5 separate regions of the Homo sapiens genome follow, and all the other regions are reported to be linked to region 2. The links are microRNA targets in miRTarBase. Many come from high-throughput screens and were not tested one by one. Region 2 holds a microRNA gene; each other region holds the end of a gene's coding sequence.
What was found. Region 2 holds the annotated microRNA hsa-miR-1264 (CAAGUCUUAUUUGAGCACCUGUU, at 2,271-2,293, opposite strand). A microRNA usually pairs through its seed, bases 2 to 8, with sites in the 3' UTR of a target mRNA and lowers its output. Matches are read on the target gene's strand: a 7mer-m8 pairs with bases 2 to 8, a 7mer-A1 pairs with bases 2 to 7 and ends in A, and an 8mer does both.

Region 1 (6,177 bases), not on the chromosome of region 2:
TCAATAAATTCTGCTGTTAGGTCTGTAATATCTTTAAATTTATTTAAGTGTAATATCTTTAAATTTTAAATACTTGGTGTTCCATCTTAAAATTTGGTCATTATAGTCTAGGTTTTCATTTTAATTTAATAATGGAAATACTCATCATGGAATCAGTTTGAAACCAGACAGATAAGGTAAAATATGTTAACCCATGGTAGCTAATGTCACTTGTTGCCTTAATCTTTAATACATAATACATATTAAGCTTCATAATTCTTTAAGTTGGATTATGCAGTAATTTGTGCTAATTCAGATGGTAGAATTGGTAAGAGGCTTTTAGAGCCTCTTGCTTATTGGGGTTGCAGAGGTATTTGTTGTTTGCATTTTTTTCTAATATACATAGCTATTCTGCATCTCTATTCTTGATCTTGGGTGGGAAGTATCATGAAGAAATTATGTCACCATTCTTAAATTTTAAAACTCATGAAGTTAATACAGTATTTTGAAAGTTTGATTAAAGTGAGCTGCTATCTAGTTTTCAAATGTTCCTACAGCAGAACCATTGTCTAGTTTTCGGTGGCAGTTGATTTATATTTGAGTCAGGGTTTTGGGTTTGTGAAATGCAAGTCTAGTGATGTGTGAGTTTTAAGTTCATTATTTTCCCCAGATTTTAATGAGGTTAGAATAATTTTATGTGTTTTCCTTTTTTTTTTTTTTTTAGACGGAGTCTTGCTTTGTCATCTGGGCTGGAGTGCAGTGGTGCAATCTTGGCTCACTGCAACCTCCACCTGCCAGGTTCAAGCGATTCTCCTGCCTCAGCCTCCTGAGTAGCTGCTACTACAGGCGTGCACCACTACGCCCAGCTAATTTTTGTATTTTTAGTACAGACGGGGTTTCACCATGTTGATTGGTAAAGATGGTCTTGATCTCCTGACCTCGTGATCTGCCCACCTAAGCCTCCCAAAGTGCTGGGATTACAGACGTGAGCCACTGTGCGCGGCCCTGCTTATTTTTTAATATAAATGTAATAAAGACAATTTGGAAAATTATTTCTAAACTTTTTTCATGGACAAAATCTTTAGGTTTTTATACTTCGTTGAAGGGGGCTTTATTTTAAATATCCTGTAATTTCCAGTGATTCAGAGATACAGTAATTGCCCCCTCTTTTTTTAAGTTAAAAACAATACACAACATTTCAGTGTCAAGTGGTCCATTAGTAGTCTCTTGACTTACACACAGAAAGCCTGTCTGTATTTTTTGTACTCATTGGTTAGAAACTACAGCACATTATTTTTCTTCAAGCTGTATTTTATGTAGAGGAAAAACAGTTGGTATATCTGTGTTGATGTTGATTCATATATATTGGGTATTTTATTTATTTTTATAGTAAAATGTATTTTGACAAATGTAAAATGAAAAGGGGAAGATATCTAAATTCTTGAATTTGTTTTTATAGGAGTTCCATCTGGAATATGACAAATTAGAAGAACGGCCTCACCTGCCATCCACCTTCAACTACAACCCTGCTCAGCAAGCCTTCTAAAAAAAAAAAAAAAAAAAAAAAAAGACTTCCCTTTTCTTGGGGTATGGCTGTCTCAGCACAATACTCAACATAACTGCAGAACTGATGTGGCTCAGGCACCCTGGTTTTAATTCCTTGAGGATCTGGCAATTGGCTTACGCAAAAGGTCACCATTTGAGGTCCTGCCTTACTAATTATGTGCTGCCCAACAACTAAATTTGTAATTTGTTTTTCTCTAGTTTGAGCAGGGTCTGAATTTTTTCATTTATTTCCTTTTTTGCCAGCAGACAGACTTGAGTCTGTAAAGACAAGCAAATACACTGACAGAAGTTTACCATAGTTTCTAAAATGTAAAAAAGAAAACCCCCAAAAGACTCAAGAAAATTAGACCACAAATTTTGCATTGTTCATTGTAGCACTATTGGTAATAAAATAACAAATGTTTGTGCATTTTTATGTGAAGATCCTTCTCGTATTTCATTTGGAAAGATGAGCAAGAGGTCTGCTTCCTTCATTTTACTTCCCCTTCTGTTTTTGAAAGGCAGTTTCGCCAAGCTTAATGCAAGAATATCTGACTGTTTAGAAGAAAGATATTGCCACAATCTCTGGATGGTTTTCCAGGGTTGTGTTATTACTGAGCTTCATCTTTCCAGAATGAGCAAAACACTGTCCAGTCTTTGTTACGATTTTGTAATAAATGTGTACATTTTTTTTAAATTTTTGGACATCACATGAATAAAGGTATGTATGTACGAATGTGTATATATTATATATATGACATCTATTTTGGAAAATGTTTGCCCTGCTGTACCTCATTTTTAGGAGGTGTGCATGGATGCAATATATGAAAATGGGACATTCTGGAACTGCTGGTCAGGGGACTTTGTCGCCCTGTGCACTAAAAGGGCCAGATTTTCAGCAGCCAAGGACATCCATACCCAAGTGAATGTGATGGGACTTAAAAGAAGTGAACTGAGACAATTCACTCTGGCTGTTTGAACAGCAGCGTTTCATAGGAAGAGAAAAAAAGATCAATCTTGTATTTTCTGACCACATAAAGGCTTCTTCTCTTTGTAATAAAGTAGAAAAGCTCTCCTCACTGCAGTGTTGGCTTTGATTTGAAATTGCGAAATTATTTCTTCAACATGAAAAATAGAGGAAACAAACTGAAGTTTTACAGATATCAAACTGAATGGTGTGACTCAAATGTCTTTTTCAGCTTCCAACAAGTAATTTAATGGAAATATAGTGAACCGTTTCACTTGTAGGTTAAAAATGTAGACAGTATTAATCAGAGAAAACTTTTTTAAATGGGTTGTGGCAGCATTAGAAATAAAACATTCTGAATACTCTTGGAACCCAACCAAAGTACTTCTGTGAAAAATTTATGAGAAATTTCTTGATAGACCTTTAAATTTATCTTTAAGAAGTAATGTGCAAATGAAGGTAAGCCATAAGGTGGGAATGGGTAGACTTTACCTTCAGTTTGCTGGCCTAGATATCTCATATTTACAAGTTAGTGGATTCTTTTCCCATCTAAATACAAATACTGTATTTTAAAAATCAGAAGATTGAAGCTTCCAAAGCAGAACTAGAGAGTAGAAAAAAGGCAATGAGTTTTGATCCTTTAAATTTTCATTTTTAACCTATTTTTCTATGAAGAGTAAAAGTCTGTTGGCATTAACCAAATCTTTTGAAAATGAAACATTTATGACATTGCTGTGTTTGTGTACCAGGAATATAAAGTGGCTTAAAATTTACCTTTTTCTATGCATTTTGAGATATGAGAAACACTATAAAAAACAGGATTTTCTATCTTTCATAATTAAACCAAAGCATCTCCTCAGTAAGAAAGATAGCACTATATAAATCATTTTATCTATTGTGCACAAACCTTCACAGAACACTATACCTTATTTGACATAAACCAGAGTCAAAGCATAGAAATCAATCTAGAAAAAAAAAGATTACATTTTTCCTAGTAATTCACTTTGTAAAATAAAATGTAATTTTTCCTACATAACCACAAAAAACAAGTAGGAAGAAAAATGTGGAAGGGGATCTTTATTCTCATGAATATAAACAACAATATAGATTGAAGTCTCAGCTGAAGCGTGATCATGACTGGTACTGATGAATGACTCCGAAAAATAAGATAGCTCATACCAAGTGGTTTGTTGTCTTGGCTGTAATCTTTTTTTCTCTTTTTTTGTTAACTGCCATATACAGAGTTTTAAATGCACACTTTTCCATTTTTTTGAGTTCTTTTTATCCTGAATCATCAAAATGAAGAAACTCTTGCATGTTAGCCAACTTTTTATAACTTGTTAATATCAGAAATTACCATGCTATGGACTTCAAAATACAAATTACTCTATTTGAAATATTTAAAACACTACTTTGAACTTTTTAAATGTAACAGTTATAATACGCCTTGATTTTATAACGTGGTTATACATGTAAAGAGGCTGAATCCAACTAATTATATTTCACATTTTCTTTCAAAGCTTTAATTCTGTTAATTTCCCCCTATATAGCTAGTGAAATAGATGTGTACACTATGTTAAATAAATTTTTTAGATTAAACTATGATTGGCTTTCTGGGAATAAAAGCTATTTAATTGCAAAGGGAAATCCTTTATTTGGTTTCAAATATAATTATTTAGGTGGTATTATAATTTATATGCTAAAGCTCTATTTTCAGAGACTTAACTACACAAATAGTTTTCCTTAGATATAATACATTTTAAGAACTGAAAGTTTATGTTAATTCTTAAAGTATATATAACTAGTCTGTTTCTTTTTGACACTGAAATTGGGACAAAGCAGGTGCTTGATAGTTGTTGACTGATAAAAGTTGATATTTCAATTTGAAAATAAAGTATAAAGCATTGGGCTTTGAGATAGCTTACTCAATTATCATTTGCTATAATTTCATTTTCACAATAATCTTTTTAAGCATTTTCAATAACTTTTAAATATTTCAAATTTTTCCAGTCTATAGCTTCTCTAATTGATAAATCCTCTTCTATTCACAAGCCATAGATCTTCCACTTTGTTATATCCATTGCTCATAAAATATGTGGCATCTGAGCATGGCTGTACAGTAGGACTCATTTCATTTAACTTAGATTTAATAGCTCAATTTTGCAAAAAGTTGCTGAAAACCTATACGTGTGTGGAAACAGGATTGTATAATACATTAACCATGGTTTGTCTATGTAGTTAATAAGATCTAGAAATATCTACTAACTAGGTTCCATTGAGATAGTCTCTGGAGAATGAACTAAGCCAGACATTGAGATGCCTTTACTTTCTAAAAGTTGGATCCTAATGGCAGGTCACAAGGCTGTCTCCTTGCCACTGGCATTACCAGTGACTTTGATTATACCATGAATACATGACAGATCTGGAAGATGAAGCAAATAAACTCACTGAAGGTTAAAATTGGGATCTAAATCTAACCAAGTAGTTTGGTGTGTAGAGTTGAATCAAATAGGATACATTCAATCAAGAAAATTACTTAGTTTTGCACTTTGATTGTTAATAAAGAATGGTGGAATATAACATGATTTGAGTGGTTCATATATAGATCAGTAAGAATTGTGATCCTGTTGCCAAAAATACTAATGTAATCTTCAGCTACATTAAGAAAAATATAGCACTCAGAAAAAGATAGGAAGCCCACTCTACTGGAAGTAATCACTCATCTGAAATGTCATCTTCTGTTTGAATGCTGTATTAGAAGAGCTGCCATGCCTGGGGAAGGCAGAAGGGGATGGAGAAGTAGCATGCCTTCTAGCTGCCTGGCAAATGCTGTGTGTTTTTATATACATTGTTGTCTGAAGAATAGCATCATGAGGTGAAATTTAGTGTTCCCATTTTAGAGTAAATTTTAAAAACAAATAGGAATACAATTTTGGAAACATGGTATTTGTCTTCAGGTATCAAATTCAAGAGCTGTCAATGAAAGGCAATTAAGCTCATTCTTGTGACTGGAAGAGCAGAACTAGGACAAATAAGGGATTTCAGTGCAATATTAAAAAGTAACTGAGTTAATTCAGATTTTTAAATCAGTTGCTTTGTAAGGCGTTAGATTTAACTTCATAGGACATAACCTAGGAGAGACTGGCTGGATAGTGTTCTGTGCATAAGGTAAGGAGTTGAATGTCTTAATGTTCCTGTGGCTCATTGAAAAAGTGTTAAAGTAAGTGAGATAATTACTGTATTTCAGCAAATCTAATTGCCATCAATTGTAAGGGACACCATTTTATGTACCACTAAGACAAGCTGCCAATTACAGAATGTATCTATTATGTGAAGAAAGAACGTGCATCTTAGAATTGATGAGATGTAGGTCTTGGAGACAACTAAAGAATACTAAGGGGAGGCATGACAGTTGTCATCAAACACAGGAAGAACTGGAATAGGGCAAGTCTCAAACCAATAAGGAGAAGTTGAATGAAACAGACTTTTTCTATATTAAGGTGCTACACAGTACTAGCTGCTTCATGAAGTAAAGGTTCAGTCAATGTGCAAACAAACTGAATGACTCTCAATTAGTTGACAGGACTGCCTTTTTAAATAAAAAGTTGAATGTGATTACTTCCAGACCTCTTTTCAGCTCTTTAAGGTACTGATACCCTTTTCTTGATTTGAAGTTGGAGACTATG
Region 2 (6,177 bases):
TACTAAACATTAAGTAGCCAGTATAACCAAATGATAAATTTTTACTGTATATCTCACTTAGATACTAAATGTTTAAATAATTTGCATTTCAACCTCCTTGGGAAGGACATGTATAGGCAGGAGAAATACAATACTGACATCACCTCCTCTAGGAAGCTTTCCCTGACTGACTCCTCTACCTTCTAGCTGGGTTCGGAGAACTTTCATGTGTTCACAATGTATCCTGAGCTCATTCTTGCTATAGCACTTCAACACAGTATATTAATTGTCTGCTCTATTGCCTACTTCTCCCAATAAAATGTTATCTCTTTGAAGGGAGGGATTGTGTCTTATTCATTGCTGTATCTGCAGCTCCTAGTACAGAACCAAGTATTAGGGTACAACTTTAGTTAATGAATAAAAGAACAATGTGGGGTAAAGTTTCAGTGCCAGTAAAAAAAAAAGAAAAACAGCCAACCAATAAAAAATTATTCTACAATTATGGCAATTGAAAGGACACTGGTGATGGTTACGTAAGCTTTAACTCTTCAAAATATATCATTAAATATGCATACCAAAGCTTTTGATTTGAATTTGTTTTTAGAAATTTCATGAATTACACACTTCTAACTGATGATAATAATCACCATTACTAGGTAGGTACCATGAGTTTTTAGCGAAAAAATTATATATATGATATATATGTTATATATATATGAGTATATATACATATATACACATATACACACATACATCTATTATTTTATTGTTTTTTAAGTTAAGGGGTTTTGGAATCTCATGAGGAATTAGTTACAGTAACTAATAAGCAAAGAGCAGAAAACAGTATAATTTTCATAAATCAATTTTTAAAAATTTTATTCACATCTTCATTTATCATAAGTTGGATCAATAGACTTTCTAATCCATTTTACTGTCTTCAGATAGACAAGATATTATTAGTCTCGTATTATATCTAAAGGCTCAGGAAGGTTAATTCACTGGCTCAAGATTACACACCTAATAAGTGCTGAAGGAGTATGAGACAGACAAGGTTCTGCAGCGTAGTAGCAGAAATATTGCAAAAGAGTGAATAAAATAAAAGCTGACCACATTTTATTTTAGTATGCACTATGTACATTCAGAAGTCAGATTAATCTTCCTATACTGATTTTCTTAGATTAGTATATTTAAATGGGCTGACTTTTCCAAAGCGGGTGGCTATTACTTTATTCAGCAAACATTTATATGGATTCCAATTCAACCCTATAGAAAGTGTTTGTAGCTAGATATAGAATGGTGAACAAAGCCTGCATAATCCTTGTACACTTAATAAAGAAGAAAGATGAACAAGGAGAAACAGGAGGGAGAGGAGGGAAAATAGGAGGAGAATGCACATAATAAGGTTCTGTCTGATAAATGGCAAAGTCAGTAAGAAGCAAGTTGCATGAAAAGGGGATGAGAAAACTAGCTTAGAGTCAAAGTGATCTGCATATCACTTACAAGACAGGCATAAATATTTTGGGTGGGACAATCAGTTTGCTTTTCTCCTAACACTCTCCCTAACCTGATGAAATTAACTTTTCCTGATACCAACTACTCCTCACAAAGATGTCCTAGGAGGAAATAGAAAGAAATATGCTAAGATCTTTGATCTTCTCAGGAAGAAAAAGGTTAAAAATAAATAAACTATTATTTGACATATTTAATAGGAATTTTTAAATTAGACATAACTGAAGTTATTTTCATTATTTAAATTAATTTTTAATAACTTAGGCTAGAAATTTAACCCAAAGAATAAAATGATGGGCAGAGTAATTACTGAAACATTTTGGATACGCTGCCTATAAATTATATAACGTAGTAAAGAAAAAAAAAGCTAAGTGACAAAGAGGCTTGCAGGAACCTAGACTATTTCATATTATATCAATGTAATGTGCAAATGAAGTTAAGAATGGATGATTATAACAAGATTTATTGATGATATAATTCTTGTTTTAGTTTATTGACTGTCTTATAATAATGATTTAATAATATTTATATATTCGCTCAAATTTCTACAATAAATACTTTTGTGCACTTGATTCTTACTAAATCCCAAGCTCAAGTCCTCTTTTCTCCCCAAAAGTTTCCCAGATGAGAAATAATCTGGCCTTCCTCTAACCTTTTCCAATTCTTTAATTCTTATCACAGACTTTCAGATATGGCGATCACTTGTGCATTCTCCTTATATTTCTTCTCTCCCATACTAGATCATAAGGTCTGTCTGGGTCGTAGGATTGTATCCTCCACATAACAGGTGCTCAAATAAGACTTGTTGGTTTATTTATTCTTTCAACAAATACTTATTGAGGACCTGCTATATGCCAGGCATGGAGAAACACAATGTGTTGAATATGTTATGATATTTTCTTTAAAACTATTAGACCATAATTTTCAGTTTGATAATATTTCAGAAAATGCCGCAATATTTCTAATCAGCATGTATTAAAATGTTTCTTTCTATATAAATCCATTTCCCACCTCTATTCCATTTATATTCTCACTTAAGTGAACTTCTGTTATTTTTCTTCCACTTATAACATTTCTTATTCATGTTTTGGACTAGGCCTCTTAACAAGTACTTCTAAATATTTGGCTATTAGGTGACTAAGTTTAGTTTTGGTTCCTGATACAAGCAAGGAGACGCAAAAAATAAAAATAAATTTTCTAATTATAAGGAATATAGTCAGGACTGCATCAAGTACATTTTATACTTGGAATTATATGCAGAGATCACGCAGCTTTCCAACCAAACAAAATCATTCTAACAGTCTAGGAAATTTTTTTTCCTATTTCAAATCAAAGACATATGATCTACTTAGAATTGTTGAAGTAACAGATTCTCATTATAAAAGAAAACACCTGGAAATTATGTGAAATTTTAAATAAATGGGTTAAAGAAACATCCAGTTAGCTGATCACAAGATGATATGTTCACTGATATCATCATGAGGTAAAATTATACTATGGAGATTTCAATTATCATCTGTAAATAGCATCTGATGTGTCATCAAAAGAAATTTCAACATGATGAAAGATCATAATAATGTTCTTCCAAATGTATTTTTATAGTTCTATTAAAAGAATGCTTCTAACTGCTACTGAAAGCTAACTTTGACTATTCATGTGAAATTTCAGTAAATTTTTAATGTAAATAAAAGAGGAATAAAAAATGTATTATAATAGAAGCAACATGCAAATTTAAGTTGTGAGTTTAAAATTTCAGTTGTGGAATAGAATTTGGAAGCATAGTTAGTAAACAGCTGAAAATGGAGAGTTAAAAAAATCTACATGAAGTACAAAATTACTCTTTAAGAATTCATGTTTTACCCTTCTGGCTGTCTTTCAATCTCTATTATGTTCACACTGCATGCTCTGGGTATTGAATAATACTATACACAGCCCATGCAATGAGCACATCCTAGAGCCAAGTCCAGTTGTGATAGAAGGCTCAAAGGGTGGTATCATTTGATCAAATTTTAAATGTTAAGTAAATTTGAAATGATTAATTTTGAAAGTCAAAAACTTAGCCAAAAGATTATAGGATTTTAAAGCTTGAAGAGACAATATCTAAGTAGTCTCTTACCCTCTAGCCATACCCTCTACCCTCTTCCAAACCATACCAGACAGATGAATATCTATTCAAAAGGAATTCCAAATTTATCTGGGAACAACTGGGATAACTTATCAGAATTTATAATCCCTAATATTAAACATCTTTGTTCATCACATCCAAATTAAATTATTTGCTTTGAAGACTAAACCAAAAGTAGTGTCATGGAAAAAATATTGGCCTTAGAACTGAGAAAACATAAATAATAACTTATAACTATCTGTCTTTGAACAAGTCAGTTAAATTCCCCTAGCCTCCGTTTCTATGCCTGTAAAACAGGGATAATCATAAATGTAGATATCATGTAAAATACTAACGGAGTTCATACATGCAAAAGTGTTCTGTAAACTGCAAGAAGTGAGCAAATATAATGGATTATTATTCTGGGGTAGTTAATACTGCAACCCATGTCACCATTTTCTCCTCTTCATAGGTTTTATTTTCTAATCTTTTCATCATCTTACTGTGTCTTTGAAATCTTTCCAAGAGCCTCTACCTCACTGTTCAATTCGACAGCCCTGACTAGATTTAAGATTCAATAGAGCAGCTGGATGGTAGCTATTTTGATTACTTATTATTCTTACTTCAATAGAAAGCAAACTGAACAAGACAGATGAGGAACTGTCTACAAGGGAGTTTACAATATGGGGCAGAAAGAGGGAGATAATAAAGAAGAGAACAAATAAAGAAGAAAATTGTATACAGTAATAATGCTGTGAAAGATAAAACAGATCAACACAAGAAATGGGAGTGAGTAGTTTGGATGGCATGATCAGGATGGAACTCTTCCAAGCAGTCACATATGACATGAGACTTGAAGAATGAGGATGATCTAGTCATTTGAAGAAATGGAAAACTAGTGTTCCAGAGAGAACACCAAGTACAAATGACTTTAAGGTGAGTGTGAACCACTGTGACAAAATGATTTCTAAAGACTGAGATTAGGGAGAAAACCCTAGGACCATATTATTAACATGTTGTATGCAATGATAAGGAGTTTAGATAGAAAGGCATTGAACAGTCTTAAGCATGGAATGATGTGTTAAAATCAACTAAACAACTAATATTCAGAATGATTTCTGAATCCTCTTAATACATTAAACTGGGGCCTCTTTTACCATCTATATGATCTGCAAATTGGACTTGGGAATTTTCCTTTCATCTGTTTAGTAAACATTAATTTTCATTCATATGGTACTTTGCAATAAAGTAATGACTTAGACATTAAATGTAGTCAAATTAGAGATTTATGCTATCCACTTTGTGTTCATTCTCCAGATCTGTCAAAATAGACAGAAACGTCAAGCTCATGCTATTTCTGTTTCATAGGAAGTCAGGCAAAATTCTGTATACGGATGAAACTATGTTTCCTACTCCTCACCTGTTGTTCAGTTAGAAATGACTGAATGGTGATGCTACACAAATCTTCAAAACCAGAGAAAAGGCCGGGCACGGTGGCTCACACCTGTAATTCCAGCACTTTCGGAGGCCAAGGCAGGCGGATCACTTGAGGTCAGGAGTTCGTTACCAGCCTGGCCAACATGGTGAAACCCCATCTCTACTAAAAATACAAAATTAGCCAGTCGTGGTGATGCGTGCCTGTAATCCCAGCTACTCAGGAGTCTGAGCCAGGAGAATTGCTTGAACCTGGGAGGCAGAGGTTGCAGAGAGCCGAGATCACGCCACTTCACTCCAGCCTGGGCGACAGAGCAAGACTCCATCAAAAAATTAAAAAACAAACAAACAACAACAACAAAAATAAATAAAAATAAAAATAACACAGAAAAGATGAAAGATTACCTTTGCTCTGTGACCACAAGAATTTCTTATGTTCCTATGGCTAAAAGCCTTGCTGGTGTCCCCCAATTCAGAAGACACAAAGCATTCTTCAGAGAAAACTGCATTAACAGTGTTTACAGTAGGATAAACACTGTGTTTCTTTGTACTGAAAGAAAGCCTGCTGTACCATATTGTATTGGGAATTATCAAAATAATTAATCATCAAGAAAAAAGCACAAAAATAAAAACTACTGTTTGTATTAACAGCCAAGAGGCAAATGTAACAAAATCTGCTCCCAACTATTAATATCTTCTGAATAACATTTAAATAGTATTGAGAAAAGCTGAATTTGACAAATAAAAATATAGAATCCTCCCAAGTGCTTGAAAAGTGTATTAGACACTATAGATTTAGTACTATAATTGTCATGATCATATGTGGAAAATACTTAAAACATGAAATAATTGGGGGCAAAAGGGAGAAAATAAAGCCTGAATCTAAATTTATGTACTGCTGTTCTCTTGGAGCCAAGATCTGTTGACGTTAAAGTATCCGTATGTAGCGTACAGTAGGCAATCAATAAATTATCACAAAAGTAAACTTTTGGTACATGTTAGTTTCCATACTCCAATACAGAAAAGGGGGATTTTGAAATATTTGTTAAGGGACAGACTTCTAAAATTTTCCTGAGCTAATATAGCACTCATGTCTCTGAACATTTGCCTAAAGCTAAAAATGACATATATTGAGATATACGGGAGTAAAC
Region 3 (6,177 bases), not on the chromosome of region 2:
AGGAAAGGCCCTAGAAAACAAGATGCGGATGCCCCTTGTCTGAAGACAGGATCAGGATGCTCCCAGGCAGGATATTCCTGGGAAGAAGTGTAGGGTCCCCGTTTTATGTTTCAGAACCACAGCATTCCCAAAGATCAGATGGGAAGAACCTGGTGTAAACTCAAAGACAGATTCTGGAAGACCTCCTTCTTCTCTCCTGTTATGTGCGTGAGATAAAGTCAGGTATGGCCCTTGTGGGTGTTTCAAAACTTCAGACTGGGTTTCAAACAGGGTCTGACGAGGCACAAGTCCTTGTCAACCAGCCCTACATTTCCTCCAGAGAATTCCAAGATGGTGGGGGAAGTCTTGTTTTTTTATTTTTATTTTTTGAGACAGTCTTGCTCTGTCACCCAAGCTGGAGTGCAGTGGCACGATCATGGCTCCTCAAGGCCTCAAGTGATCCTCCTGCTTCAGCCTGCCAAGTAGCTGGGACCACAGACGTGCACCACCCCGCCTGGCTCACTTTTTAATTTTTTGGTAGAGTTGAGGTCTCGCTATGTTGCCCAGACTGGTGTCTAGCTCCTGACTTCAAGTGATCCTCTTGCCTCAGTCTCCCAAAATGTTGAGATTACAGGCATGAGTCACCGCGCCCAGCTAGGGAAAAGTCTTATTGCGAACTTACATGTCAAGTTTCAGGAATGTTTTGTATTCCTTTTTTTTTGAGACAGGGTCTTGCTCTGTCGCCCAGTGTAGAGTGCAGTGCATGATCATAGTTCACTGCAGCCTCAACCTCCTGGCCACAAGCAATCCTCCCGCCTCAGCTTCCCAAAGTGCTGGGATTATAGGCATGAGCCACTGCACCTGGTCTTGAGTTCTTTAATAAACTGAAAGCATTTTTATTGTTTAACTTTAAAATATACATACAACAAAATTTGCTATTTTAAGAGTAGCCTTATGAGTTTTTGCAAATGCTTGTTTTCACCACTACAATCATGACAGAACACTCTTAAGCCCATATGTACTCAAATCCCCTACTTCTAACCAGCGATTTGTTCGTTTCCCTTATCTTTGCCTTTTCCATGTCTTATAAAAGGAATACCATATAGCCTTAGGAGTCTTTGTAAAATTTGATGCCCTATTTGTAAAATTAATTATACTTGCTTTCCAGTGTTCTAAATTTAAGTCTTGACAATGCCCAATATAGGTTAAGCACAGGTTAAGCCTTCAAACTTGATTCCATCATCATGAGCTACATGAATATACAAGACTCTGTTGTCCCCGTGCTTAACTTTTTTCATCTAAGAGGGAATGATGGGTAAGTGGGTGTTAAGAAATACAAGTGACTGCCAAATCACATTCATCTATAGAGCGTTATGAAAACTTATGTTAACATGGAAAGTAATGGAGATTACTGGATATTGTTTGCTCTTTAATAAAACTCTAAGGTGTTACATGTTTTTCCTCTTCCCTAGTTAATTCTGGAAGTTCAGAGGTTGAAATGATACCTGAGAAAACTTAAATAGGCTTTTGGGGCTTTCTGGCTCATTAAAACAAAAGCTTCTGCCTCCTTGGCCTATAAAACACATGAAAAATTTTCTCGTTTGAGGATGTCAAACATGTCTTCTTTTTTTCCGGAACTCACCTCTAAACCACAAAAACCATCAAACATTCCCCTCTTCTCCCCCATATGACTGGCTGCTGTGGCTTTACTGATTAGTTTTCAGCTCCAATTAACTTCTGCTTTGTAGATGAGAACTTTGGGAGTTCCCAGAGAATTATATTCATGACCTGAGAACATCCAATCCAGACCAAAGCCTGGCTTCCTTGAACGCTCACCAAAATCACAGAACACAAGGCCAAATCTGATAGTAAATCCTTTTAAACACCCTCTGATACAAGCCACAGCCCTTTCTTGATCATGTGTTCAAACTTCAACTCAACACAGCAAATTTTCTTTGACTACCAGTGTGATCCTGGTGGTTTCTGGGTAGAGGGCCTTGACAAAACCATTATTTCCGCTTTTTAATTGTTATTAACCACAAATAAGAAATCATTTTAGGCCGGGTGTGGTGGCTCATGCCTGTAATCCCAACACTTTGGGAGGCCAAGGTGGGCAGATCACCTGAGGTCAGGAGTTCAAGACCAGCCTGGCCAACATGGTGAAACCCCATCTCTACCAAAAATAAAAAAATTAGCTGGGTGTGGTGGTGCATGCCTGTAATCCCAACTACTCGGGAGGCTGAGGCAGGAGAATCAACTGAACCTGGGAGATGAAGGTTGCAGTGAGCTAAGGTCGTGCCACTGCACTCCAGCCTGGGTGACAGAGCGAGACTCTGTCTCAAAAAAAAAAAATCATTTTAATGGCAAATGTTAAGTATACAGCAATTAAAAATAACATTTATATGAAAAAATACCTGTATTTGTATATACTTGGTAATACTGATTCAAAATGTAACATGCTTAAATTATCAAAATTACAAAGTTGATTTGAAATCTGTAATTCTCTCGGTAAACAAAAAATAACATTTCTTAGTGTTATGGGTTGAATTGGGTCTCCTAAAATTTTTACGTTGAAATCTTAATTCGCGGTGCCTCAGTATGCGAAAAGAGAGCTGTTGCCAATGTAATTAGTTAAGGTAAAATCATACTGAAGTAGAGTGGGGCCTAACCCAATGAGTGGTGTGTATGTATAAAAATATTGTCACATGGAGAGACACACACACAGGGAGAATGCCATGTGAAAATTAGAGTTATGCTGCCACAAGCTAAGGAACTACCAGAAGCTAGGTGAGTTCTGAAACAGATCCTTCCCTAGCATCTTCAGAAAAAGCATGGTCCTGCCAATGCCTTGTTTCTGGATTTCTGGGTCCAGAACTGAGAAACAAAAAGTTTGTTTTCCTATGTCACCCAGTTTTTGTACTTTGTTATGGCAGCCCTGGGAAATTAATATAGTCTCTAAACAACTAATTTGAAAGCACAGTAAATAGGATTTTTTTTTCTTTTCTTGCTTGTGTGATGGAGTCTTTCCCCGTCTCCCAGGCTGGAGTGCAGTGGTGTGATCTTGGCTCACTGCAACCTCCGCCTCCTAGGTTCAAGCACTTCTCCTGTCTCAGCCTCCCAAGTAGCTGGGGTTACAGGTACTCACCACCATGCCTGGCTAATTTTTGTGTTTTTAGTAGAGACAGGGTTTCACCATGTTAACCAGGCTGGTCTCAAACTCCTGACCTCAAGCCTCCCAAAGTGCAGGGATTACAGGCATGAGCTACTGTGCCCAGCTAAACAGGATATTTCTAAGAAATATCTACAGAAGGTTTTCCTTGAAACAAAATCCACATTATTTTTAATGATACATAATCAAACCTAATAATTTAACCTATATCAAGAAACTGCATTTAGTTCTGAGTAACAGAAATCTCCCTAAATCTAATATATGAGGAAGGTATTTGTTCTCACATAGGACTCGGCAGGCACACTTAAAAATGCAATAGGGTACAAAGTCCCATGTGTTGTTTTTCTTCTTTGACTGCAACACTGTGGCTTTCGTGGTGGAATCAGGATCACAGAGCCACTGGAAGTATTAAGATAACAAGGTGTTCACTATATAAATTAGACCCCATGCAAATATGTTAAGATCTACAGAACGGGAGAATCAGAAGCTCAGAGACTGCCAAACAAGACAGTCTGAATCAGTGGTCAAGAGGTCATGCAGGGTTTTGAGAAAAATCCAGACTCTAGGTGACTGACCACACAGGAATATCCCTAATATCAAGTTAATGGAGATGTCTGAGGAAGACTACACCTCTGACACAGTGGAAATCAAGCACTTAAGTGTTTCTTTTGATGGTACTCTTGATTGGCAGGAATAAGAATCTGGAAAATAAGCTGAAGGTTGATGTTCACAAAGCCCCTATGCATCTGTCCATCTCCATTTAATGTGACCCCAAAAGCTCAGCGATGACTTACTTCTTCTTCATTCTAAATTTCATTCAAGTTATTGCTATTGGTAAATTTGGACATGGAACCATAAAGGAAATGCATTCCAGCAAATGAAGTTCCTAACACTACCCACACTGACAACAATGCAGAAGAACTATCTGCAACTCTGGATTTCTCCGTCACATCACAAGTCAAAGCCTACTGTCCAATTCACAATCACAAGCAAAGACAAACAGCAATGGGCAAACATTAAAAATTACAATTCATTTGAGGCTATACTCCTTAAACAACTTTGCATAATTACAAAATTCTGCCAACTACTTCTTAAAAAATGGAATAAGGCTCCTCTGGCCAAACAATAAAAATACTCCCAGTAAAAAAGGTGGAAAATATAATAGATACGTAATATCCAATACCTGTCACACTAAGTCAGTTACAATTTAAGAAATTAAATAAAACTTGAACCTACTTGCATATTAAAAATACACTTCAAATCATCCATGAGTCCAAAACACTCTAAGATGAAAGTTTTATTTACTGAATCGTAAGAAACTACCTGTTCAAATTCATGTAGGATAGCTGAGAGTATTTGGAGAATTATTTTTCAACTAAATGTTTATTTGCAAATGAACTACAGACACACTCCTTGAGTGTCCACTTTCAGGATAAGGAACTCATAAAGGCAACACCATATTTACAACTTTGATCAGATCTCTCTCCTGGTGTGACTTTTCTGAAGCACTGCACATGAATTCATTTGCAGGAGGATGTCCTACATTACACTTATACTGTTTTTCTGTAGTGTGTATTCTCACATGTCGCCTTAAGGATGAGGAACAATTGAATGCTTTCCCACAATGCTTACATTGATAAGGTTTCTCTCCAGTGTGCAGTCTCATATGTATTGGTAAAGATGATGGCCATTTGAAGACCTTCCCACATTCCTTACATTCATAGGGCTTCTCTACAGTGTGCGTTCTCACATGTTGTTGCAAAAGTTCAGGCCAACTGAAAGCTTTCCCACACTGCTTGCATTTATAGAGTTTCTCTGCGGTATGTCTTCTCATATGTTTTTGTAAGGATATGTGGCAATAGAAAGCTTTCCCACATAGCTTGCATTCATAGGATTTGTCTTCAGGGTGCATTCTCACATGTTCTCGAAAGCAAGCAGACAAGCTGAAGGCTTTCCCACACTGCTTACATTCATAGGGTTTCTCTCTAGTATGTGTTCTCATATGTTTTCGTAAAGATATGGGCCAATTGAAAGTTTTCCCACATTGCTTGCACTCATAGGGTTTCTCTCCAGTGTGCACCCTCATGTGTCCTCGAAAGGAGGAGGGGTGACTGAATGCTTTCCCGCACTGGTTGCATTCATAGGGTTTCTCTCCACCATGAGTCCTTTCATGTCTTCGAAAGGACTGGGGATAAATGAAGGTCTTCCCACACTGTTTGCATTCGTAGGGTTTCTCTCCAGTGTGAATCCTTTCATGTCTTCGAAAGGACTGGAGATAAATGAAGGTTTTCCCACATTGTTTGCATTCGTAGGGTTTCTCTCCAGTGTGTGTTATCATGTGTCTTCGAAAAGCCGAAGAATAACTGAAGGCCTCCCCACATTCTTTACATTTATGTGGCTTCTCTCCAGTGTGTGAAATCATATGTCTTCGAAAAGTTGAGGAATAACTAAAGGCTTCCGCACATTCCTTACATTTATATGGCTTCTCGCCAGTGTGTGTTATTGTGTGTCTTCGAAACGTTGAGGAATAACTGAAAGCTTTCCCACATTCCTTACACTTATATGGCTTCTCTCCGGTGTGACTTCTGAGATGACTAGTAAGACTTGAGAAGTCAATAAAGGCTTTCCCACATTGCTTACATTCGTAGGTTTTCTCAGCAGTGTGAATCCTTACATGCCGATTGAGGGAGGAAGTACGAGGAAAGGTTTTCCCACATAATTTACACACATAGGGTCTCTCTCCATTGTGGGTTCTCACATGCATTCTTAGGTGTGAACGACAACTGTAGGCCTGCCCACATTCCTGGCACTGATATGGTTTGTGTCCAGTGTGAACTGTGATGGGACTCTTGAGGGATGTGCGGCGATGCATGAAGACTTTTCCGTACGTGTTGTATTCATACTGTTTTACTCCAGGTGGAATTTTCTTGTACAGATTAAGATGTGGAATCTGGCTGAGGGCTTCTCCACATTGATCATTACTTTCACAGAGTCTCTCCAACCCATGATTTCTACTAAAAATGAGAAGC
Region 4 (6,177 bases), not on the chromosome of region 2:
TCAAGGCTTATGGGTAGCAGAGATTGCGTGAGCTACACTGGGCCCAAGAAATGCCTTCAGCATTGTAAATCTGATTTTCAGGATAAAGAAGCAAAACTGACTTTGAAGACATCCAGAATTTCAGGAGGCTATGTCATTAACCAAAAGGTACCAAAAAGATTCAAAATCTGAATAAGCACACTCTTCTTTGTGCCTTTGGAAACGGAGTTCAGCTGGAATATGGAAAAGAGAGGAAATATTTTTTAACTCTATTTTTTTTCATGAGGAAAAAAAAGCTAGTGATTTACAGCCTATCTTGGGTTAAGAATCCAAGGTTTTCTTTACTAGGTCTGACTGGATGCTGGGGATGGTGTTAGAGCTGTCCAAAGGTGGCAGGACTGGTGGTAACTCTTCACGTATGTACATAAGCCTTGATATTCCATTTTGTGGCTGGTCCAAGGGGCAGCCTAACTCATCTTACAAGACGGACTCTAGGGACAGGTAGGTTGGATCCTCATTCCTGACAGTGCATTTGTCTGACACACGGGACTACCTCCCTAATGTATGCTTTTCTTTGAGAAAAAAAAAGTAACAGATTTTCTTTACATCTTGGCACCTTGTAAAGTTTTTTTTTTTTTATACAAAAGTTCAATAGTTTTGACACTCCCCATTGTTAATCACTACTTCACTGATAAACTTGGAAAAGTGTGACCCTGGAATTTCATCATGCAAAATATTTACTGCAGCAGGAGAAAACATTTTTTAAACAACATTTTTTTTTCTTTTCAAATGTATGAACTTGTTTAAGATAGCCAGGAAGGCAGTGGTAGGATAAACACAAGGGATAGGAATGTATCAAAAAACAGATTAACACACACGCACGCGCGCACACACACACACACACACACACAAAACCTGTACAAAATGCTCCAATCAATGAGAACAGAAAAAAGAAATCTTCAACTATGTTACAGTTTAAAAGCAGAAAAAAAAAGTTAGGGAGTTTCTCCCTCCCACATGTCAGGAAATGTCATCCAATATTCTTAAAGCAAGGATAACTAAATAAAATACATGTGCAGCATATTCTGCAATTCCGTTACATACAGTAGTTTTTTTTCCAAAGCTATTTTTTTTTAGTATCGTTAATATAAAGCAGTTGCACAAAAAGCAAAGGTGTTTTGACAAACAGGTGTATGCATTTATTCCTTTTTAGGAACAATATCTAAAAAAAGAACCGCCCTCTGCCCTCCCCCAAAAAAGACAAAGATTCACACAGACACATCGGGATATATGTACAACGTAATAAACCCCATCCTAAAGAAGCAACTGGGATAACCCCCAGGGGATACAGAATCAGAATTGTAAAAATCATAGTGAAGTTTGCTTGCTGTAAAGCCTGAGAATTTTTTTTTCAGTTGGTTCTTCTGCAAGGCTGTGATACCTGCAAAGATATGTAAAATCTAATTTTTCTTTTTTTTTTTTTTTTGCTACAGTCTTTAGACTAAGCATGCAAGACATACGACTAAGTGCAACTGAGTGAAATGTTTTTTTTTTAAATTTTAATCATTCCCTAAAGGTTTGAACTGAGGTATGCGTACTAACAGTTTCTCATGCTGTTATCTTTACTCATGTCTAGCTACACATGCTGAGAATGAACTAATCTACCAGATTTTTATCCTCTTTTGAATACCAAACTAACCAGCAACCACTCAGTTTAGAAGCACAGGGCCCCCTTCCCATGACCCTGTCTGGCTACTGCCTGCACATCATGAAGCTGCCTGGAAAAGTTTTTTTTTTTTTTTTTTTTTTTTTTTTTTTTTTTTTTTTTAAAGTCTTGCGTGACCACAGACTGCCCTTTATACAGAAAGCAGAGTGAAGCTTCAAAAGTAACTGCCAGAGAAGTTTTTGTACCAAGCTTATGAGTGGATGGGAGTGTTACTTTTCTTTAAATGAAAAATGCTGACCAAAGCCTAATCGGAAAAAAAGGAAAAATTAAAAATAAAAACAAACTGAAGGATATATGCCAAGATAAACCAAAATTAATACAGTGATCACAGCACAGTTCTTAAACAAAAGTGGCATACAATCTAAAAATATCTCTTTTTCTAGAAATACTATTATGTAATCTAGTTCAATTATGGAAGCTTTTCTGTCCTGACTCTAAACTGTCTCCTTTATTGGATACTCTAATTGCAGTGGCATACATTCATTTTTTTTTTGAGATGGGACTCCCTTCCTTCTGTAGCTCCTTTAATATTGTGTCCTATTTTTATCTGCAGTAGCCCCATAAAATCTCTTTAAGAGAATGAGTTTTGGTCTCTGTAGAGGTACACAAAAAGAAAAAGGAAAAATAACTACTAGAAAAAAGTAACAACTTTGGTTCCATTATCTACTTGGTCTTCTAAATTTACGATGAAGGAGCAGTTCTCTTTCTCAGGTTGCAATAGCCTATCGCTTGTCATTTGCCTCTAAATTCTTTTGCCTCCTTTGATCAACAATAAGAGGATATTTGGCTTCATCAGATAAAGCATAAAACAGAGAACATAATTTACCTTTGTGTAATATCTTTGGTAATTTTAGAAAAAAGGTACAAAGAAAGAATATAAATTAAGCTTCGAAAGGCTCTCGAACTAAAAAAAACTACAGTCCTATATAAATAAATGACAGGAAAGTGGGTGCAGAGCTGAAGTGTGGAGGGGTTCTAAGGACTGAGGTTGTACTGACCTGTAACCATCACATTTCTGCATACCATGTTTGGGACCCCCCCAAAGCCCAGGGCCTACATGATATCTTCTATGAGTTTTTGTGATACTGGGTTGGTGATATAATATTGCATAACAAACTGCAGTACCAAATTTGCATATTTGAAATTAACACTTTAGCATTTGCTGAACTCAGCCCTCGTTAACTCCCTTAACAAGTTCAATCTGAAATCGAATTTGCATTCAAACAGTTTAATGCCACCAAGTAGGTCTGAACTAATGTATAAACTCAGCGCCGCCGCCGCCACCCCTACTTTCAGGGCAGCTGCTCGGGGAAGCCGGTTTTTTTTTTTGGCCATTTTGCAAACAAAACCAACCCACACCCGTTATCGCAGAGCACCCAAGGCCCATGGCAACTTGGTTCCACAAGGGAGAGCCTTCCAAGGCCATATTGTCAGTCTAATTAATATGAGCTTTTTTTTTTTTTTCAGTGCTGCCTATGTTTCCTTGTGCTGGTAGAATGTGGTGGCATTTATTAATGGTTGCTGCAAAAAAAAAAAAAGAAAAGAAAAGAAAAAAAGAAAATCCGAAACACCCCTCCCCCGAACCACCCCCAATACTGCTGCGTGGAATGAATCGGCATTGTTCCTAGAGTTTGTCTCTCTTTTTTTTTTCTGTCATTCATTCTCTTTCTGGCAGGACGTCACGTCTGTGTGAGAGGGCCTTCATGTGTAGAGTGCAGCATTTGGGACCTTTTTGAAAAAGACCAAAACGGAATGTTTTCTGACTTTAGAGAAACGTGGTGATGTCTGAAGGAAGATGGAATGAGTGACAGAAAGCTACAAACGAGAAATGACATTCAGCTTTGTATAATAAAAACACCTATTAACATTCATCACAAGGTACAGAAAACTTTAAGCCTCCAAGAGGCCATCGGCCCAAATGGAGGCCTGAGGTCAGAACTTAAAATGGTATAGTAGAAGGAAAAAAAAAAAAAAAAAAAGCAATACATTAAAAAGTTTGGGATAATTATTTTTTAACCCCTCCCCCCAATACACACACAAAGGCCTTCCCCATCCCAACTGGAAGCAAAAAAAAAAAAAAAAAAAAAAAAAAAAAAGGAGTAAAGGCAGTGATAATCAACATGCAGTACTGTGCAAATAGGTCGTCCATTGGAATCCTTAAATTCTGGGCAAAGGCTTGGTCTGCAGCTTAGGTGCACAAGCTCTGTCGGGCGTCCTCAGTGTCCAACGTTGGCAGGACTGCAGTTCAAAGTCTGCTGCTAAAAGTGAATCAGTTTAGCAAATTTACAACACTGATGTTGACGGTTAAGAGAGGAAAATCCCAAGTACCAAACAAGTCCATCCAATGCACAGAGTACAAATTCCTTTTTTCAACAAAAAGTAGAAAAATCAAAAATACTCCCAAATGGGGTTCTTGATGGCACTAAGAGTTAACACATTTCAGAGTTGTCAAAACGTAGTGAAAATCCTCCAGACTGTACAACAAATGGAGAACAATTTCACTGCTAACTTTTGACGTGTTTTTTTTTTTTTCCTTTTTCCAATCTTCATTCTCGGGGTTGGCCCGCCCCGATAGTCACTCCATGTCCTCGTTTACTGGTTCATCTTCGTAATCTCTGTCATGGTCAAAATCTGGACTGTGGTTGGCTGTTGTCACTAAGGACAGGGGCCCTTCAGCTTCCTCTGGATCGAGGGGCTCTTCTTTGACGTGTACAGGATGCCTGGAAAAAATATGCAGAGGTTCAGTGAGGGTACTTCCCAGCCCATTGCAGCTCAGGTGCACTGAAAAGTTTGGGGCAACAGAAAAGCCGCACTCTAGAACTAGAACTCTGTCCAGTATTGTTACCATTAGCCACACGTGGCTCTTTAAATTGAAATGAACGAAATCTTACTACATTTAATATTCAGTTTCTGAGTTGTGCTAGCCACATTTATGTTCAAAGGCCCCATGTGACTAGCGGTTAATTCTGGCCAGCACAGAGACAGACGGAACATTTGCATCACTGCGTAAAGTTCTCTTGGGTAGTGATGCTCTGAATCACTAGTCTCTGGACTGGTGTGGGCCTCTCCTCCCTGGTGGCATTTCTCATACTTTAACACACGCTGCAGTCACCTGTGGGCCTTGTTGAAATGCAGTGTGTGATTCAGGTCTGGGGTGGGGCCTGAGACTCTGCATCTCTAACAAGCCCCCAAGTGATGCCGGTGGTCCTAGAACCACACTGAGTACCAGATAACAGGTCCCGTAGTGGCATCCTGGGTGGATGAATACCCATCTTCAAATAATTACACGAAATAAGAATCTGTAATGCAACGGCAGTTTGTGGGGACCACTGAGCAGAGGAGGCTGGGCTAATCATGGCTTGCTGTGTGTTCTGCTTTGCTAGTTAACATGCAGAACCTGTGAAAGAACTCTCCAGAGGACGACCCCAAGCGAGGTTCTATCATTAATCAACTTCAAGCAAACACAGCAAAGAGACACCATGATATACATGCTTGAAACTCCAAATTAATGCATATTTTTACAAACTGTCAATAAGGCAAGAAAAGCCCTGCCAGGAAACACAAACGTAGAGGAAAAGGCTCGCTCAACACAACAATATGATAAGAAAGCAGAGCCCCAATCAGAATAATAACGCTGTCAGCTGTAAACAAGGCAAAACATGAGGCCCGGCTGGTAGCAGCCACTGGGATGAGCGTGGTTGCGATGAGGTCTGCCAACTTTCTCATTATGGACCAGCGCATGGTTCACCCAAAGGGGACTGGGGTGATCACACAAAACCGCTCGGATAACTATTGAGAAATGTTGTTCGTAAATCATATTTACAACTGATCCTTTGCATATACAAATGACTTTCTGTTGCAGGGGCTTTTGATATGTAAAAGAACCATTTGAGTTAAAATGGTCCCATCTCTGGGACAGGCTGCAGAAGGGAAGATTTTTAAATTGACGTTATCAAGTATTAGTAATAAGAGGTGGTAATGGGGATGGTTGGCTTCCTAAATAATTGATGCTGTATGCAAACCCCAAAGGCCCCTTGAACCATTTAAAAACAAACAGAGGAGTGCTTTGGACTGCCCTTGAAGACAGGAACCTTCAGAATCAATTGACTCTAAAATTAGCACAGCCTAGAGAGCATTTAGGGGGGCTAGATGTTACCTTTAAAAAAATAATTTTTTTTTTTTTTTTTTGAGACGGAGTCTTGCTCTGTCGCCCAGGCTGGAGTGCAGTGGCGTGATCTTGGCTCACTGCAAGCTCCGCCTCCCGGGTTCACGCCATTCTCCTGCCTCAGCCTCCTGAGTAAGCTGGGACTATAGGCACCTGCCACCGCGCCCGGCTAAATTTTTTTGTATTTTTAGTAGAGAAGAGGTTTCACCGTGGTCTCGATCTCCTGACCTCGTGATCCGCCCGCCTTGGCCTCCCAAAGTGCTGGGATTACAGGCGTGAGCCACTGCGCCCGGCTGCTAAAAAAATA
Region 5 (6,098 bases), not on the chromosome of region 2:
AAACATTCTTTAACTCTAGGCTGAAGAGTTAGGTCAGTTAAAAGGCCCTTTCTGATAACAAGAATTATTAAAGTGAATGGGTTACTGGACAGGTCTTCATAGGTCAAATGAAGAATTTTGTTTTATGGCATATGGACCTATGGTGTATAAACATTCAGAATAATCCAGCATTCTCCCTAAACAACAACAACAACAATTTCTTATCTTTTAGATATGGAAGATTGGAAATGATTTTTTTTTTCAAACTCAATTTGCTTAGTACCTTAATACTTCACCATTTTGCCACACCTTTGTCAACCACTTTGAGTGAGATGATAGAATTTTCTTTGGTAGCCTTTAAAGATTAAGCTCATAGATGAAGAAAAGATACGTGTGACTTGATTGAAAGTTGAGTTAAAACTAGAGAACTGCCAAAAATAATTTCCCTTTTATGTTGCATTATAAAGTGGAGTTATTCCTTTTTTCATCCTTTCATATATTAAAAGAGTGAGATGGAAGTGGTTTTACGATAATACTGTAGCTGGATTTACTGTCATCTTTAGTCCAAACTGATCCTAGGCAGGCTGAAATCCTGGGGGAGTCTGGATAACTCTGAGACCAAAAAAGCAGTGTCAAAAGCCACAGCCTAGAGGTCAAAAGTATGAATTTAAGTATCAGATAGTTTTCAGATAGTTTAACTCAAAGCTCAACCTGCTAGGAATGGCCTTGGACAATTAAGCTTTATTCTCCAATTCCTAATATGTAAGTAAGTAAACTATTATCTACTCTACAGGACAGTTATGAGGCTTAAATGAAGAAACAGATTTCAAGCACTTAGCATGGGGCTTAGTATAGAGAACAACTGACCAGTATTAGCAGTTAGTATCATAATTGATTTTCTTTTTCAGACCTGCACCTTACAGTGGGTACTGGTTCCCACAGTCAGAGCAGATTCCCTGACCACTTCCTTTCCTTTCCTTTGAAGTTAGAAGTAAGGGAGCCATGGGAAAAAGCACCACCTCATGCCTAGAGAACCATTTCCCGTCTGCCTCTGGCCCCTCACGCAAGACTGTCTATGTAAGCTCAGGGGCTTTTCTTCTTCTTAAGATCTCCCAACCAAGTTCAAAGATTTAGCCTTCCAAATAATATGAGCTATAGTCACAGTTTATGATGTCATGTTTGCTGCAATGCTTTGTTGTAGTTGCTGAAATATTCACAGCCTCAGTCAGTGCTTAGATCTTAAAAGAATTATAAGGGGAAGTCAAACTCCATTCTTCAGTAAAATGCAGCAGAACAACTAGAAGCAGTCCCATTGGGCAATAAAAAGTTTAAAAAATGCATCTATCTTTAGACCATTAGGCTTACAAAGTCAATCTAGATTCTTTGATTTTACTAGGTAGGACTCTATCTTATTGAGACATTTTAAAAGTAAGCTAGAACAGCCACATTTTAATCTATGTACAACTCTAGCCATGAATTTCTAAAATTGCATTGGAGTACAATACTGTGTTATTGTATTGCCTAAAATCCGAGATGCCATTGAAATTTTTTTTTTTACATTCTAGCAATTAGGAAGTTTTATGGTCAATGTGTAAATTTATGTTGTAGTGGTTCTTTTTCTTTAAAAACTGATCTTCAACCAATAGTGTATCTTGTAACTAATGGAGTCTTAGACTCACGGAAATATAGAATTCTAAAATCATATTGCTTTCTCATGATGTTACCTAAGGTGATTAGTCTGACTTTGTGGTAACTTAATGATTGGCAAAAAGAACAATTTGAATATATAAGAAAGATAATCCAAAAGGCTTCATTATGTTTGATAATACCTATGCACAGGTGCATAGGAGAGCCATCTCTCTGGTTAATATTTGAACTTTTCCCTAGCTGCTTGGGAGGCTGAGGTGGGAGGATCACCTGAGCCCAGGAGGTTGAGGCTGCAGTGAGCCATGATCACACCACTGTACTGCAGCCTGGGTGACAGAGGGAGCCCCTGTCTCAAAAAATATATATATTTTGACTTTTTAATGTTTCAACATCACTTTAAAGGTCTCTCATATTTCTTCAAAAATGCAGTATCATATTTGTGATAGTAAAATATCCAAAGAAGAGCAAAAAGCCTCCTCCCCCTAGCTCCCAGAATCTCCTTTTGTCACTTTTAGTGCACCTCCTTCTTTTGAGAACCCCTGTGAATAGCTAGGGTGGCAGCCATACCTATCACTATCAGTCTATAGGATTGTACTTTGATGTGCTACTATACACCATGCAAAACTCAACATATACAGTGCAATGCTGGGCCACATAACAGTTATTTTAAAAAAATACCTTCTGGCTCACTGACGTGAACTTTAAACAAAATTTCTAATTAGTCATGCACATAGCTTTAAACAGTTGGAAAAACACAAATTTCTAAAAGTGTTACCTTTTTCCTTTTATCTTACTAAAAATCCTTTGAGTTAATTTTGGGACTTTTACACAAATAAAAGCAACCATCAATAAATCAAACCCTGAAAATTCTTTTTCCCTAAAATAACTTTAAAGGGTATAACTCTTTTTCTATTTTGGTAGCAAACATGAGAATTACCACATCTGATGGTGGAATACCACCTTCACAGAACACTTGGATGGGAGATGGCAACCTCCGGTGGTCAGGTTAATATAAACAGTGAGATGTGATGCTACAAGTTGATCATATGAAACATTGATCATAATTAACTTGAAATGATTGAATTACTGACAACGATTATCTTTAGGAACACTTTCTTATTAACTATGTTGCAAGTTCATTTGCAAATATTTTAGTCAGTGGAATTGAAAAATAATAATCTGGCTGGGCATGAAGGCTCATGCCTATAATCCCAGCACTTTGGGAGGCTGAAGCAGATGGATGAATTGAGCGCAGGAGGTCAAGAGCAGCCTGGGCAATATACTAGGGCCCTGTCTCTACAAAAAATACAAAAATTAGCCGAGTGTGCTGGTGCATGCCTGTGGTCCCAGCTACTCGTGAGGCTGAGGTTGGAGGATCACCTGCACCTCGGAGGTCAAGGCTGCAGTGAGCCATGATCACACCACTGCATTTCAGCCTGGGTGACAGAGTGAGCAGAGTGAGACCCTGTCTTGAAAAAGAAAAAAAAAAAAGAAAAAAGAAAAATAATAATACATATATAACCTGCAATAAAAAATGTAAGAAAAAACAAAAAGTAAAAGAAAGGGAGGGAAGGAGGAAGGAAAGGAATTTATCTTAAAATATTTAATTCAAATAAATTTTAAATTCCTGATCTCTAAAAGTTTACATTTCAAAAAAGGAAAAGAAGTTCTCTGAATGCTGACATTACAATAGGAATACATTCAGGTTTTAGATCTTAAAGTAAAAATTATATGGCTGTTGTCCACAAATCATGATTATAAAGCAAACACCTAAGACAACGAAATCAATTTTCTTATTTGCTACCTCATTCTATTAGAGCCAGCTGGAAAATATAAGAACCACAAGGCTTATAGACACAAGAAACAAGGTGATTTGCTTTTGCCTCCCCTCGACCTTTTCATTACCCACTTACAGACAGAAATTAAACTACTTGCTGGATTTTTCAAAACCAGAATATAAAAGCCCTCCTTTTTCCTTTGAACAAATTGATAAGCATAATAAAAATCACTTTCATTCTTTTTATGTTGTTTGGCCCAATAGCTTCAGGAGCTCTATGATGGTTTATTTAGGCCTCACTGAAGCAGAGGCAATACCCATACAATCTCCACAGCAACAAAAGAAATTGTCATTGAAGCACAAGGGATTTATCATTAGGACGTATGTACACGCCTATCATGTATGTATGTGATGTTTTTAAAACACTCTACAAATGTTTTTGAATTACAACATGTATGACATGTTCTAGCTTATTATCCTATATTTGGTATACCATTTGGAAGTCTTGAATTTGCACTTTGCCAAGAACTGTAGTTAAGAATAAAAGGCAGAGGAAACTGATTATTTCTTGCCTCCAAGTATCTTACTGCCTATGCTTAGTTTACAAGCTCAGATAAATGTTATTTTCAGGCAAGCTGTGAATTATATCAAATGATTTTGAAAGACATAAAGAAAAGCCATAGCTTGGATCGTTAGTAAATAAAGACCTCTTGAAATTCATGTTGACTTTCCACATAGAAAGTGGAAGGAAACTTTTCTGCAAAGCAACTCATCCACATAAAAAATAGTCAAAAAGGACTTCATTTAATTAGTGGTATGTAAAGACTCTTGCATAGAAAAAGGTTACAAAGTAATGCAAAAAAGACTAGGTACAGTAATTTCAAAACAAATATTTAAAAGTATAATTTTGCATAACGTTTAACATTCTCATAATGTTTATTGCTTTCTCCACACAGTAGAGAAATGAAGTGCATAATACATGCTGTGTCTCTTATCTTTTAAACAAAAACTCTCACGTGCTTGATTTCAGCATATTAAGAGATTATTTTGTCATTAAACGAAATCGAAAAAAACAAAACCACAACCCCATTACATAGCACTAGTTTAGGCATGGGCAAAAATAACTTATGTACATCCCATTGCATACATTCATCTTGTTTTGGGATCAAATGCAATCACTAACTTGACAAAGAGCTTTAAAAATTGTAGCTTTTCTCTTCCTAGTGCTCCCTCCTTGCTTCATCACCTCCAGAAATGTAACTTCTCCCAAAGGGTGACAAGAATAGATGTTGCATCATTAGGAGAAAATGAAGAGGATAAATATATAAAAATAGTCCTAATGAAACTGAATAAATTAAACCAAACTCCTACAAACTGGAGAGTTTTCAAGTTGGCATGAATTAAATAGCCTCTGGTGGACACATGGTAGGCAACTGCTCATAGGTGCACTATATAAATGTAAGGTTTATATAAAGCAGCACCATATTTTGAGCCATCCAAAAAAAAAAGTGCCTGGGGGCCTGCAGGCAGAGCAGAAATGCTTGTTAATCTGAGAACTGATGAAATAATTGCTTATACCAATGCACTGCTAAATGTCACCTCTTGGCATGTCTGTACAAAGAAGGCAAACTAAGATAAAACTAGATCTTTCAACTTGAAAATTATTTTCAGCAGTCATTTTGACCAGTAAAACCTGTTGGTTTCAGCAGAATACTCTTCTCTGGCATGGTATTAAAATGTCTGCAGCCTATTGCAAGACTTCTGTCCCTTTCCTTTCTTAACCTATCCTCCACACTCGTCTTCCCTTGTGCAATGTTATATATCCAGAAGAAAACTTCCTAAGCTCAGGCACTTACGAAACACGACTCTCTCACTCTCTCTCTATATATGTATGTCCCATCTAGTCTCAAGAGAATTCAGTCAGGGCATTTTACTTCCCCAATTCAGACATACTGATGCACTGCTGGATGGTACGGTCCATATATTTTCCAGGAAACTTCTAAATGGTAACAAGTGTGAAGTTTTCAAAAGTTGCTGATGTCAGTTACCGAGCTGCCTTGAACCAAACAAAAAAGGGAGAGAAAAAAAAGAGAATACCACATTTCCACTCGTGAGGTTTGTGTCTCAAATAGCTTTATTGTTCCTTTGTGGATCTGTCGGCATCTGTATGGCTACCTTCAGGGTGCAGAGGTTTTAAGCTGACTCTGAAATGGAGGACATTCAGTTACTATTGCAAGAAGTTCAAGAAAAATTTAAAAAGCTCCAACTTCTGTCCCCCAGGGTCGGTAAGGTTTATTGTTTGTTCCACTGCTGGTCTGCTGAGGACTGGACGTGGCTGATACTGACAAGGGCGGGCTGATGGCTGTGGCCGCGGCCACTGCTGCTGCTGCGTTTGGGGGAAGCATGGGGAATGCCCCCGCGAAGGACAGAGGGAAGCTGTGTGCAGCCGCGGTGGCTGCTGCGGCTGCGGCGTGGACGGTGGCAGAGAGGGACAAGAGAGAGGTGGAGAGAGGTGGCACGCAGGGGGCGACGCTGCCCGTGGATGGCATTCGGAGGGCTGAATCCGCATGGGCAAACGTGGCCGTGAGGAGAGCAGAGCCGTGGGCAGGAGGCACTTCTGAAGTTGTGGAGAGGCGACAAGGGGTTGACTCTGAGGCATGGAGGCCGTTGGGCTGGAGCAGGGCTGCGGGCAGGT

Region 1: the mRNA of CNOT2 is a reported target of hsa-miR-1264. Seed matches in the 3' UTR shown: 7mer-m8 at 1,547-1,553.
Region 3: the mRNA of ZNF555 is a reported target of hsa-miR-1264. Seed matches in the 3' UTR shown: 8mer at 1,159-1,166, 7mer-m8 at 642-648 and 7mer-m8 at 341-347.
Region 4: the mRNA of FOXP1 is a reported target of hsa-miR-1264. Seed matches in the 3' UTR shown: 7mer-m8 at 1,809-1,815.
Region 5: the mRNA of HEY2 is a reported target of hsa-miR-1264. The part of its 3' UTR that is shown has no 7-base or 8-base seed match.

Annotation. Positions count from the first base shown.
Region 1 is chr12:70,352,391-70,358,567 of GRCh38, forward strand. It overlaps CNOT2 (CCR4-NOT transcription complex subunit 2), which reads left to right. Exons shown (of 16, transcript NM_014515.7): 16 at 1,439-2,603. The coding sequence ends at 1,525. Among named protein-coding and RNA genes, the nearest start is that of KCNMB4, 11 kb to the right of the region's middle.
Region 2 is chrX:114,648,812-114,654,988 of GRCh38, reverse strand. It overlaps MIR1264 (microRNA 1264), which reads right to left and starts at 2,334; the gene lies at 2,266-2,334. The region is part of intron 2 of HTR2C (5-hydroxytryptamine receptor 2C); the gene reads right to left. It overlaps MIR1912 (microRNA 1912), which reads right to left and starts at 3,445; the gene lies at 3,366-3,445.
Region 3 is chr19:2,852,365-2,858,541 of GRCh38, reverse strand. It overlaps ZNF555 (zinc finger protein 555), which reads right to left. Exons shown (of 4, transcript NM_152791.5): 4 at 1-6,162. The coding sequence ends at 4,590. Among named protein-coding and RNA genes, the nearest start is that of ZNF556, 12 kb to the left of the region's middle.
Region 4 is chr3:70,954,967-70,961,143 of GRCh38, forward strand. It overlaps FOXP1 (forkhead box P1), which reads right to left. Exons shown (of 21, transcript NM_001349338.3): 21 at 1-4,425. The coding sequence ends at 4,281. Among named protein-coding and RNA genes, the nearest start is that of FOXP1-AS1, 330 kb to the right of the region's middle.
Region 5 is chr6:125,759,360-125,765,457 of GRCh38, reverse strand. HEY2 (hes related family bHLH transcription factor with YRPW motif 2) reads right to left here. Exons shown (of 5, transcript NM_012259.3): 5 at 4,189-6,098. The coding sequence ends at 5,656. Among named protein-coding and RNA genes, the nearest start is that of HEY2, 13 kb to the right of the region's middle.